Linked DNA regions of Homo sapiens: region 2 is linked to region 1. The links come from fine-mapping of genetic effects on gene expression. A gene starts in region 1. The other region holds a variant in brackets. All regions are shown on one strand. Distances are from middle to middle.

Evidence for each region. PIP is the estimated chance that this variant, and not a neighbour inherited with it, causes the effect. A credible set is the group of variants that fine-mapping cannot tell apart.
Region 2: its variant is the best candidate, but not a certain one, in a credible set for the expression of BUD31 in lymphoblastoid cells (GTEx, PIP 0.60).

Annotation. Positions count from the first base shown.
Region 1 is chr7:99,406,082-99,411,450 of GRCh38, forward strand. It overlaps BUD31 (BUD31 spliceosome associated protein), which reads left to right and starts at 2,888. Exons shown (of 6, transcript NM_003910.4): 1 at 2,888-3,164; 2 at 3,953-4,088; 3 at 4,983-5,105. The coding sequence starts at 5,012. It overlaps PDAP1 (PDGFA associated protein 1), which reads right to left and starts at 2,516. Exons shown (of 6, transcript NM_014891.7): 1 at 2,455-2,516. The coding sequence starts at 2,467. It overlaps MIR12119 (microRNA 12119), which reads left to right and starts at 3,091; the gene lies at 3,091-3,183. RefSeq lists a silencer at 2,285-2,344 and an enhancer at 2,555-2,944.
Region 2 is chr7:99,539,328-99,544,696 of GRCh38, forward strand. It overlaps the pseudogene LOC100419451. Among named protein-coding and RNA genes, the nearest start is that of FAM200A, 10 kb to the right of the region's middle. The variant C/T (reference allele first, on the strand shown) is at 2,411.

The DNA of each region.
Region 1 (5,369 bases):
CTACTAAAAATACAAAAATTAGCTGGGCATGGTGTCACATGTTTGTAATCCCAGCTACTTGGGAGGCTGAGAAAGGAGAATCGCTTGAACCCAGGAGGCAGAGGTTGCAGTAGCCGAGATTGAGCCACTGCACTCCAGCCTGGGCCACAGAGCGAGACTCCGTCTCAAAAAAATAAAAAAATCGCTGTTCGTTACTTTTCCCTCTAATCTAGTATTTGGTGGAAAAACAACAACAAAAGCACCACTGAGCACATAAGCAATTTACTGCAGATGTTGGAAACACAATAAAATACCTTGTGTTCACCTTAGTAGTATGGCAAAAAGAGAATACTTAAGGGAAAAAAAAGAAACCCAAACCTACAGGCAAAAACTTTGTGCTTAGACTAAGAAATGACTGGCAAAGTACAGATGAAAACAAACCTGACTACACAGTCTAAAAGTTAAAAATGTGACTAGCAGTTAAAGTGTCAGTTTTATAGTCTGACCCTCTTCAGCCAGAACACCAGGCTGACCCTTGCTTAAGCCATCAGCCAGTTTTAAAGCAAGGTGGCATCCCCCTCTGCTGGTCCCCAAGTATGCAAGGGTGGCTGTGGCCTCAACTTCCACACAGGAAGCTGAGGCCCACCTGATTTCCATAGTCTGTCTCTGTGAGCAGAGACTCTGTAATCAGCCAGAGTTGCTCTGCACTCCAGAGGCGGTAGCAGAGATACTGGCCTCCTCTGATTCCTTACAGCAGCTGCAAAGCCATAATTGGGCTGCTAAAGATCACACCACCCATTTTTAATGACTACCTAGGTTCCCAGGGGTGTCTAAGTCTATGCTTATTAAAGTCCTATTGTGAGAGAGCAAGTGTGCCAAGAAAAAAACCAACACCCTTTCTTGCTCTCTTAATACACCAGGCAACAGTAACAACTCAAAATTGATTACTATAGGCTCTCCTCTCATGCACTTGGCTATGGGACCCTGACCTTAGCTTGGTCCACAGTAATTTTATAGTAGACTCTTCAAGACTTTAAAAAACGATTTGCACTTAACATAATGGAAACAAGCGTTGGTCCTTTGCTCTTAGGGAGTTTGATACTTTTAACACCTTCACGGTTTTTTGTGGTTTTCAGATTAACCCAAGAAAATGTAAACCTTGTCTACCCCAAAAAGCTTTTCACAAGCCCAAAGACCATTTAGCTATGAATTCATATTTAAGGTTTTATCGTTGTAACCTCCAACCTTTACCCAAAGTATCCATTAAGTAAAACTTCGGAGGGAGGATGGCTCATTCAGCAACCTCCTTTTACAGATGAAGGGACTGGGGAACAATAGCAGAGAGACTTTTCCAGCCACAGAATAAATCAGTAGAGAGCTAGGTTTAAACACATTTAGCTCTGTAATGCCCAATTATCTCTGGAGTCAGGAAGCGATTTAGGTTTGAAAACGCTACAGGCAGATGTTTCTGTGGGTTGAGTGCATTAACCAATATAACACATGAGCTACCAACACAAATATATTTGTTCTGTGCCAGGAGGTGGCCAGGCACTTTATGAGCGCTATAATTTTACCACCCCGGCCCCAATTCAACAAGCTAAGGATTAGCCCAGTGTTTCAGATGAGGAAGAGGTTAACTTGTTCAGGGCCACAGAATTAGACGTGACATAGCTGGGATTCAAACTGGGGACTATCGATTCTAAAGGGGGAAACAGGATAGAGAACGGGCTAGAAGATAGAGGACGGGCTACAATGGACTGGGCAGTCATGAACCTACTTACAAGATCAAGAGCTGGCAAAGCCTTAAAAATAAGAATAGTTACTGCTTCACTGGGCACTTTTAACGACTGCCTGGCACTGTACTGCGCACTCCACGTGGATTACCTAGTTGAAGCCTCCCAACAGTACTAAGAGGTAGGTACAATCGTTATTCCCATTGGCAAATGAGAAAACGGAGACACAGGAGGTGGAGCGACTGGCTCAAAGGAACACACCGAGCCGCTACCGAACGGGGGAGTCGAAACCAGGTCTGGAAGGCTCATGGGCATCTCCTTAAGTCCTCCTAGGCAGGCCTGGCTGAACCGAAGCCAGAAAAAGCCCACGTTTTACGCGAGAGGCAGGCGGGCCCGGCACAAGCGCGGGACGCGGTGACTCAGTTCCTAGCCAGCCAAAGAGTGGGATAAATTCCAGAACCCCTAGACCCGGAGAAGCGCATCCTAGATCCGGCTTTCTAGGCCGGCGAGGACCCAGAGCTTCCGAAACTCCTCAGACCACTGACGGAGTGACTCTGGGACACCACAGTCCTCAGTTTCCCCATCGGGACAATTGGGCGTCGAGGCCCAGGCCTGGCTCTCAGCCGGTGCGGACAGCCTCCCTCTGCGCTGCTCTCAGAGACGCGCACGGGCTGAGGGGACAGCGGAAGCCGGACCTGGGCCGCCCCTCCAGGCCTGCGGGCCACCGGCGCCCGCCCCTCACCTCCTTTAGGCATTGCGGCTCCGGCGGCTGCGGCGGCGGCGGCGGCGCCTCGAACTGACACCGGAACCGGAAATAGCTTGGGCTCGACTTCTTCCTCCTGGGCCAGCCGCCGCCGCCGCTTCAGTGGCCGCAGTGGCCGCAAGGACCCGGACCTCAGGGAGGCCTCCGCACGAAGTCGGACCGTCCTGCGCGCCGCCTAAGTCCAGGCTTGCCCGTCTGCTGCCAGGCAACAACGCCCCTAGTCTCTCCGTTCGGGAAGACGCGTGGCCCTGCCTGCCACCCACCGGAAGTGAGGGCAAATGGCAACAGCGGCTCTGGAATTCTATACAGGCATTGCTGAGGACACCTAAGATGACGCAATCTCCGCGCGGGTAGGGCGGGGCTCCGCAAGGACCTCATGCCTTAGAGATCGCCTGAAGAGCGGAAGCCTTCTGTCGAGAAGCAGCTACCCAAGCTCCAGGAGCTTCCGGTATGTGTTTTCCCTCTGTTCTCGATTACCTTGGCAACGGCTGAGGCGGGAGACCGGTGGTCTGCACCGTCCTGGAGGGAGATATGAGTGGCTGGACTCTCAGCCAGCCACTGGGATGTGTTCGGGCTTTGGACCTTGAGGCCGGAGAGAGCTCCCGAGAGGAGGCGGCGCCACGTTCGTTCTTCTGAGGGGACGGTAGATTTGGGGGTTTTCCTCTAGGATTCTCGCGCCGTTTCCTCTGGTAGGAACGTCTTCTGTGTTCTGATTGTTTTTCTAAGCTGGGTTCAGATGCTGTCCTTTTTATGAGTTTTCCCTACAATCCTGCACTATCTTCCTTCGCTCCTCCTCGCCTCCTTCCCCTAGCGCCCCAATCTCTCTTACACCTCCCGGCACATCTTTCTTCTCGATCTGATTACCTCCTACGTCCTCTTTCTCCTCGATCTGGTTACCGCCTACCATTTTCACCTCCGAGAGGCCTCTTCTGACTTCCAGGCTGGATCAGGGCCCTCGAATTTCCCTGGGTCGTAGAAAAGCGATCATTCTCTTGTCACAGACTATGCGCCTTGGGGCCGAGACCAGAATTCACCTATTTTTAGCTTCAGCGTAGGGGAGACTAGTGCGAAGACCACTGATTTGGGAGTCAGGAGCCCTCCAGAGTCAGGTTTTGCAAATTCTCAGCTGTGTGACCCTGATTCTACCTTATAGAGTTTGATTCCTCCTCTATATGGTTGTTTTAGAGAGTTCATGAGAGGAGGCTCTGTGGGCGGGGGGGGGGTGGGTCTTTGTAAAGTGTCAGTACAGAAGGGAGTGACTGAATGAATTTGAGAGAGATGAATCTGTTATGCTGAAAGGTAAATACTTAACCTGGGTTCTCTCTGGCAGCAAGGAAATGCTGTGTGGTTTGAAAAACGCTTTGCTATTTAGATTGGGATCGGCCTCTTGTATGGGAACTACCTGACTTTATGTAATATGTTGTTTGGTGTGAAAGAGACCTTGGCAATCAGCCAATCCACTGCCCTCATTTTACAGAAGAAACAGGACCAGAGAGGGAAGGTGACCTGAAAGTCACAGAATAATTTTTTAGAGCTGAACAAGAATCCAAGCCTGCAACTGCAGAGACGAGAGATCTTTCTGCTGTCTATACTCTTGGAAAGCACATCCTAAGGTACTTTGATTTTACAGTCATCTTTCCCTTTTTATTTTATGTTTTGTTTTGTTTTGTTTGTTATTGAGACATGGTCTCACTCCGTCACTTAGGCTGGAGTGCAGTAGTGTGAACATGGCTAACTGAAGACTTTCAACCTCCTGGGCTCAAGTGATCCTCTTGCCTCAGCCTTCCGTGTAGCTCAGACCACAGGCACCCACCACCATGCTCAGTTAATTTTTTTGATTTTTTTTTTTTTTTGGTAGAGATAGGGTTTCACCTCATTGCTCAGACTGGTCTCAAATTCCTGGGCTCAAGTGATCCTCCCATCTCAGCCTCCCAAGGTGCTGGCCAAGACCAGAATTACAGGCATGAGCCACCGTGCCTGACCTTCCATCTTTGCCTTTTTAAATACTCACCCCCATGGCTCCCCGAGTCACAGCCCTCCTTATACTCTATTGTAATTGCTTTTTCTCTTGTCTGTCTCTTTGCTAAAATGTCACCTTCTAAGGGGCAAAGGCTTAACTTTTGTTCTGTGTTCCCAACATCCAGTATAGGGTTAAGCTTTTAGTTGAAGTTAGCTAATGACAACAGCAAATGTCTCTTAGGCACACATTATACACCAGGCATGATAGATACAATTCTAATGAAGTCTTTGCAATGACCACATAAGGTAGCTTCCATTATCCCCATTTTACAGATGAGGAAACAGAGGCTTAGGAAGGTTAAGTACCTTTCTGAAGATCACAGCGGGTAAGTAGCAGAGCCAGGATTTGAACACAGTCTGGGTGCTGAGCCCTGTCCCATAGCTGTGACCCTATGCTGACTCAAGGAAGTCAGCCTGTACCGAAATAATGGCTGGCAAAGGCCTTTGGGGATTTGAGACTCAGAAACCAATTCATTTTTTTCCCCCAGATCTTTGCAGATTATCCTGTGGAAGGAAAATGCCTAAAGTCAAAAGAAGCCGGAAAGCACCCCCAGATGGCTGGGAGTTGATTGAGCCAACACTGGATGAATTAGATCAAAAGATGAGAGAAGGTGAGTAGGGGAGTTCCTGTCTGGGTGGGCTGGGTCCAAGGGTCACAGGCTTAGATGCCCCCAGGGGACAGGCATAAATGCAAATATAAAAAGAGAGTGGTCTACTAACACTGACATGTTGTGTTTGCTTATGAACTTGGGGAAATACTGTAAGTGCCCGAAAATAAGATAACATTAATGAAAAGGTCCTCAGAAAAGGTGTTTTTTTTTGTTTTTGTTTTTGCCAACTCGAATATAAAAGGTTATGAAATATAGATCAAATAG
Region 2 (5,369 bases), 130 kb after region 1:
CAGTACTAGTACAGAAAACTCTTGTATTTCTTAAAAACCTAAGCATGATTGTTAACCTCGATGATATTTCCCTGAGGGAGCCCACGTGCTTAGCCAGGGCCAGCAAATAAAGCCAAAGAGTGATGAGTGGAGGTCAAGAGAAAACTCTCAGAGGTCACCCTAAAATCAGCATTTGTGGCTTAGATAACGCTGTTATATTTCAAGGGTTATGTCCCTTCCTATCAGGGAATCTTCCCTTGGTCTCGACATCCCTGACCCTTGCTCAGTATTTTTTCCACTGGCTGACATGTGAAGATAGGACATGGGAAGTGAAAACACACACTCTCTCCCCTGCCTGGGCTATCTATTCAACACCATGTAATTAACCCTGGGGTGAAGGAAAACACCACATGTCTTCGCTCATGTGGTATTTTATTCACAAGACACACAGCTTTGGAATAGTGGTTTCTATCCTTTGCTGGGTATTGTTGCTTATGACCAAGGAAATCTAGTCTTTTTTTTTTTTTTTTTTTCCCGAGACAGGGTCTTTCCCTGTTGCCCAGGCTGGAGTACAGTGGCACAATCACAGCTCACTGCAGCCTTGAACTCCTGGGCTCAGGTGATCCTCTTGCCTCAGCCTCCTGAATAGCAAGGACTATGGGTGCACCACTGAGCCTTCCTAATTTTTAAAATTTTTTGTAGAGTTGAGGTCTTGCTATGTTGCTCAGGCTAGTCTTGAACGCCTGGCCTCAAGTGATCCTCCCATTTTGACCTCTGAAAGTGCTGGAATTACATGTGATAGCCACTGACCCCAGCAGAAACCGAGTCCTTTTTTTTTTTTTTTTTTTTGAGACGGAGTCTTGCACTGTCGCCCAGGCTGGAGTGCAGTGGCATGATCTTGGCTCACTGCAAGCTCCACCTCCTGGGTTCATGCCATTCTCCTGCCTCAGCCTCCCGAGTAGCTGGGACTACAGACACCCGCCACCACACCCAGCTAATTTTTTGTACTTTTAGTAGAGACAGGGTTTCACTGTGTTAGCCAGGATGGTCTCGATCTCTTGACCTCATGATCCGCCCGCCTCGGTCTCCCAAAGTGCTGGGATTACAGGCGTGAGCCACCGTGCCCGGCCAGAAACCTAGTCTTTTAGAGCTTTTCTCTGTCACGTCACTCCTGAGATGTGGGTTTTCTGGCATCTTAAAAGATGAGGTCTCCACCAAATCTCTTCTCCCATGCATGACACTCGTAAGGTTTATCTCTCAGGTAGATTCTATAATGTAAAATTAAGCTAATGCTGTGGCCCAAACTTTCCCACCTCCAGGATTTACAGGGCTTCTCTTCTGTCTACCACAAATGTCATGCTGAGGCTGGAAGCCTTTTCACACCCATTACACTGTAGGGTCTCTCCCCAGGCGGATTCTTGGTGCACAGTGAAGCATGAGCTTGACGTGAAGCTTTTCCCACACTCGCCGTAAGGGTGGAATTGCTCTTCAGTGGAGCTACCTGGTGGTGATGAGAGCTGAGCTTGGCCTGAAGCTTCTGCCACTCTCACTACATGTTACAGTTTTGTTTCAGTGTGGATTCTTCCATGCACCATCCCAGTGGTGCATGTAAAGTGTTCTCACAGTCAAGGCAATGATATCACCTCTCCCTGGTGCAATTCATGGTGAGGTCCGAGCCAGAACTAAAGCTCTTCTTGCACTTGCCACATGTTTGGGGCCTCTCCTGGGTATGCACTTTCAGCTCTGCTCTGGCTGGAGCTTTTCCTACATTCTTTTTTTTTTTTTTTTTTGAGACGGAGTCTCGCTCTGTCACCCAGGCTGGAGTGCAGTGGTGCGATCTTGGCTCACTGCAAGCTCCGCCTCCCAGGTTCATGCCATTCTCCTGCCTCAGCCTCTCGAGTAGCTAGGACTACAGGCACCTGCCACCATGCCCGGATATTTTTTTTGTATTTTTAGTAGAGACGGGGGTTTCACCGTGTTAGCCAGGGTGGTTTCGATCTCCTGACCTCGTGATCCACCTGCCTTGACCTCCCAAAGTGCTGGGATGCCACTGCGCCTGGCCTACATTCTTTACACTGGTAGGGCTTCTCTCTGGCATGTGTCTTGTGATGACACACCACGTTAGAACTCTGCCCAAGTTTTTTTCCACTTTCCCCTATATGGGTTATGAAGACTATTTTTTCTGGGCTTATTTTCCAGACATCTCTGTGCACATCTTCACATCGGACCTCTCTCTCCCGATCTCCTCTTCCTGGCTTTGCCCACCTTGCAAAACCATGGCCAGTTTATTTTTTGGTTTCTCCTTATAATGTCCTGGCAGGTATTTTTTTTTTCACCATTTTCTGCATTGAAGGCCTTTTCCTTCTTCACATTAGAATCCAAAGGCAAAAGTACAAAGTGAAGGTGTTAGACTTAAAATAGGGTGTGGAAC[C/T]GGGAAAAAAAATAACAGGAACAATTGCATTAGATTAAGTGTAAGTTTCTTTGAAGTAATTTACAGAGCTCAAAGGCAAAGCTAGAAGGAAGGTAGCTTTGGGTGACTCTGTCGAAACAACCCGAGCAAGGTGTTTTTCATAGGCTCATATGGACTGCTTCTTTTTTTTTTTTTTTTTGAGATGGAGTCTCTGTTGCCCAGGCTGGAGTGTAGAGGCATGATCTCAGCTCACTGCAACCTCTGCCTCCCAGGTTCAAGCGATTCTCCCACTTCGGCCTCCCAAGTAGCCGGGATTACAGGTGCCTGCCACAGCCCTCGGCTAACTTTTTTTTTTTTGAGATGGAGTCTTGCTCTGTCGCCCAGGCTAGAGTGCAGGGGCTTGATTTTGGCTCACTGAAACCTCTGCCTCCTGGGTTCAAGTGATTCTCCTGCCTCAGCCTCCCAAATAGCTGGGACTACAGGTGCCTGCCACCATGACCAGCTAATTTTTTATTTTCAGTAGAGATGGGGTTTCACCATGTTGGCCAGGCTGGTCTTGAACTCCTGACCTCAACTGATCCTCCCACTTTGGCCTCCCCAAGTGCTGGAATTACAGGCGTGAGCCACCACACCTGGCCTGAACTGCTTGTGAATGATCATTTTACAGCCTGCCATGTATTTACTTCCTCTACAAAGACCTTTGTGCTTAATTCTTCGCCAGTCTTCTCTACAGTCCCTCATTTAATTGAAATTACTCATTTATAAGCCTCTTTTAACATTTATTTATTACTTGTGTAGCACTTACTAAACATCAGGCAGTCTCCTAAGTGCATTACATGTATTAATTCAGTTATTTCACACAGTAACTGCATTAGGTAGGTACTATCATATATGTGTTTATTTATCAATAGGTATTTTTCATCCATGTAGAAAAGAGTGTTAGAAAAAGACTGGGGGCTGGGCACAGCGGCTCAGGCCTGTAATCCTAGCACTTTAGGAGGCCGAGGTGGGAGGACTGCTTGAGCCCAGGAGTTCAAGAACAGCCTGGGCAACACAGTGAGACCCCATTGCTACAAAACATACCAAAATTAGTGGGGTGGCATACGCCTATAGTCCCAGGAGGCTGTGGTGGGAGGATCACTTGAGCCTTGGAGGTTGAGACTGCAGTGAGTTGTGATCATGCCAACCTGGGCACCAGAGAAAGGATCTGTCTGCCATCCTCCCACCCCAGGCCCCGCCAAAAAAAAAAAAAAGAAAGAAAAAAAAAGTATAGCCTCACAGAAATCTTAGGCCACTTCGGTTAGGGAGTGACAGTCCCACGACTAACTTGGGTCTCCTGACTCCTGTCTATGGGACTTTCTGCTAACACTCACCTTCTAACTCCAATTCCACCTGTCCCAAGTCAAAAACCCTAATTTCAGCATCTCCGGGTCGGGGTCCAGGTGCCTCACCGTCCCTTTTGCTTGTGTCCCACGCTCCAGACTCCGCGCGCGCCTGGGCGAGGCTGTTGGGTAGGGCGTGCGCACGAGGCACCCAGGATGGGGGACGGAGGTGTTCACTGCAGGCGCCAACCGCATGCTCACAATGCTCACCTGCAGGCCTTGCCACCCAGGGTGGGTATGGAGCACTGGAGTCTTCTGTATAACTACAGTTCTGGCTCTGGATTTTCCGAGATCGCGACTGTGGCCGAGGCAGGGGCACCAGCAACCAGTGGCGCTCAGTGAAGGGCAGGCTGGGTCTGTTCCGCCATTTGCCGGACCGGGGTGGCCGAGCCGAGGACCTGGAGGAGAAGCGCCCTGCGCCCTCGGTCCGCCCACTCCCAAAGCCTTTCTTCGCTATCCCAGGAAGCAGCCCTGAGTTGTGGTTTGCGCCCGGGTGTGGGTTCTGTTCTGCAGCCCAGGCTCTGTCCGTGGTCTATGAAGGAGCCACCTAATACCGAGGGTCTGTGAGCTGGAGTGCCCATTGGCCAGGAGTCCCCAGCTCTGGGCAGAGGGAAGGCTTGGGCCTCAGGCGGGCTCAACACACCCTTAGCCGGTCAGCGTGGGGACCAAGTGTGGTGGGGCTGCAGAGGGCCTAGGAAAAGGAGAAAGGGGTTGAAGAGCAGCTACCTCCCGTTTGCTCTGTCTGGCACAGGGGCACCAACCCCTGGAAGTGGATAGAAGCACTTTAACTTCAAGTTTGAAGTTTGGAAAACTTCAGGCTTCACCTTGTACCCCAGTGAATGGCTAAACTAGCAAATCGATGGCCACTGTCTGATGTGTCCAACAGACGTGCCATTTGTCCCTCACTATGTTTTCGGTATCTTTGAGGCAACATTAAAAATTGGATTTCAGGCCAGGCTCAGTGGCTCACGTCTGTAATTCCAGCACTTCTGGAGGCTGAGGCAGGAGGACCACCTGAGGCCAGGAGTTCAAGGACAGCCTGGGCAACACAGTGAGACCCGTCTCTACAAAAAAATAAAAACTATGAGGCAGGAAGATCACTTGAGCCTGGAGGAGGCTGCAGTGAGCCGTGATTGCAAAGTGCATTCCAGCTGAGTGATGGAATTAGACCCTCTCTGAAACAAACAAACAAACAAACAAATCACCATCATCACTATCTTCTTTCTTGTGTCCTGATTTTTTTTTTTTTTTTTTTTTTTTTTTTGAGGAGTCTCGCTCTGTTGCCAGGCTGGAGTGCAGTGGTGTGATCTCCGCTCATTGCAACCTCCGCCTCCCGGGTTCAAGCAATTCTCCTGCCTCAGCCTCCCAAGTAGCTGAGATTATAGGCATGCGCCACCACACCCAGCTAACTTTTTTGTATTTTTAGTAGAGACAGGGTTTCACCATGTTAGCCAGGATGGTCTCTATCTCTTGACCTCATGATCTGCCCGCCTTGGCCTCCCAAAGTGCTGGGATTATGGGTGTGAGCCACCGTGTCTGGCCTTTTTTTTTTTTTTTTTTTTTGAGACAGAGTCTCGTTCTGTTGCCCAGGCTGGAGT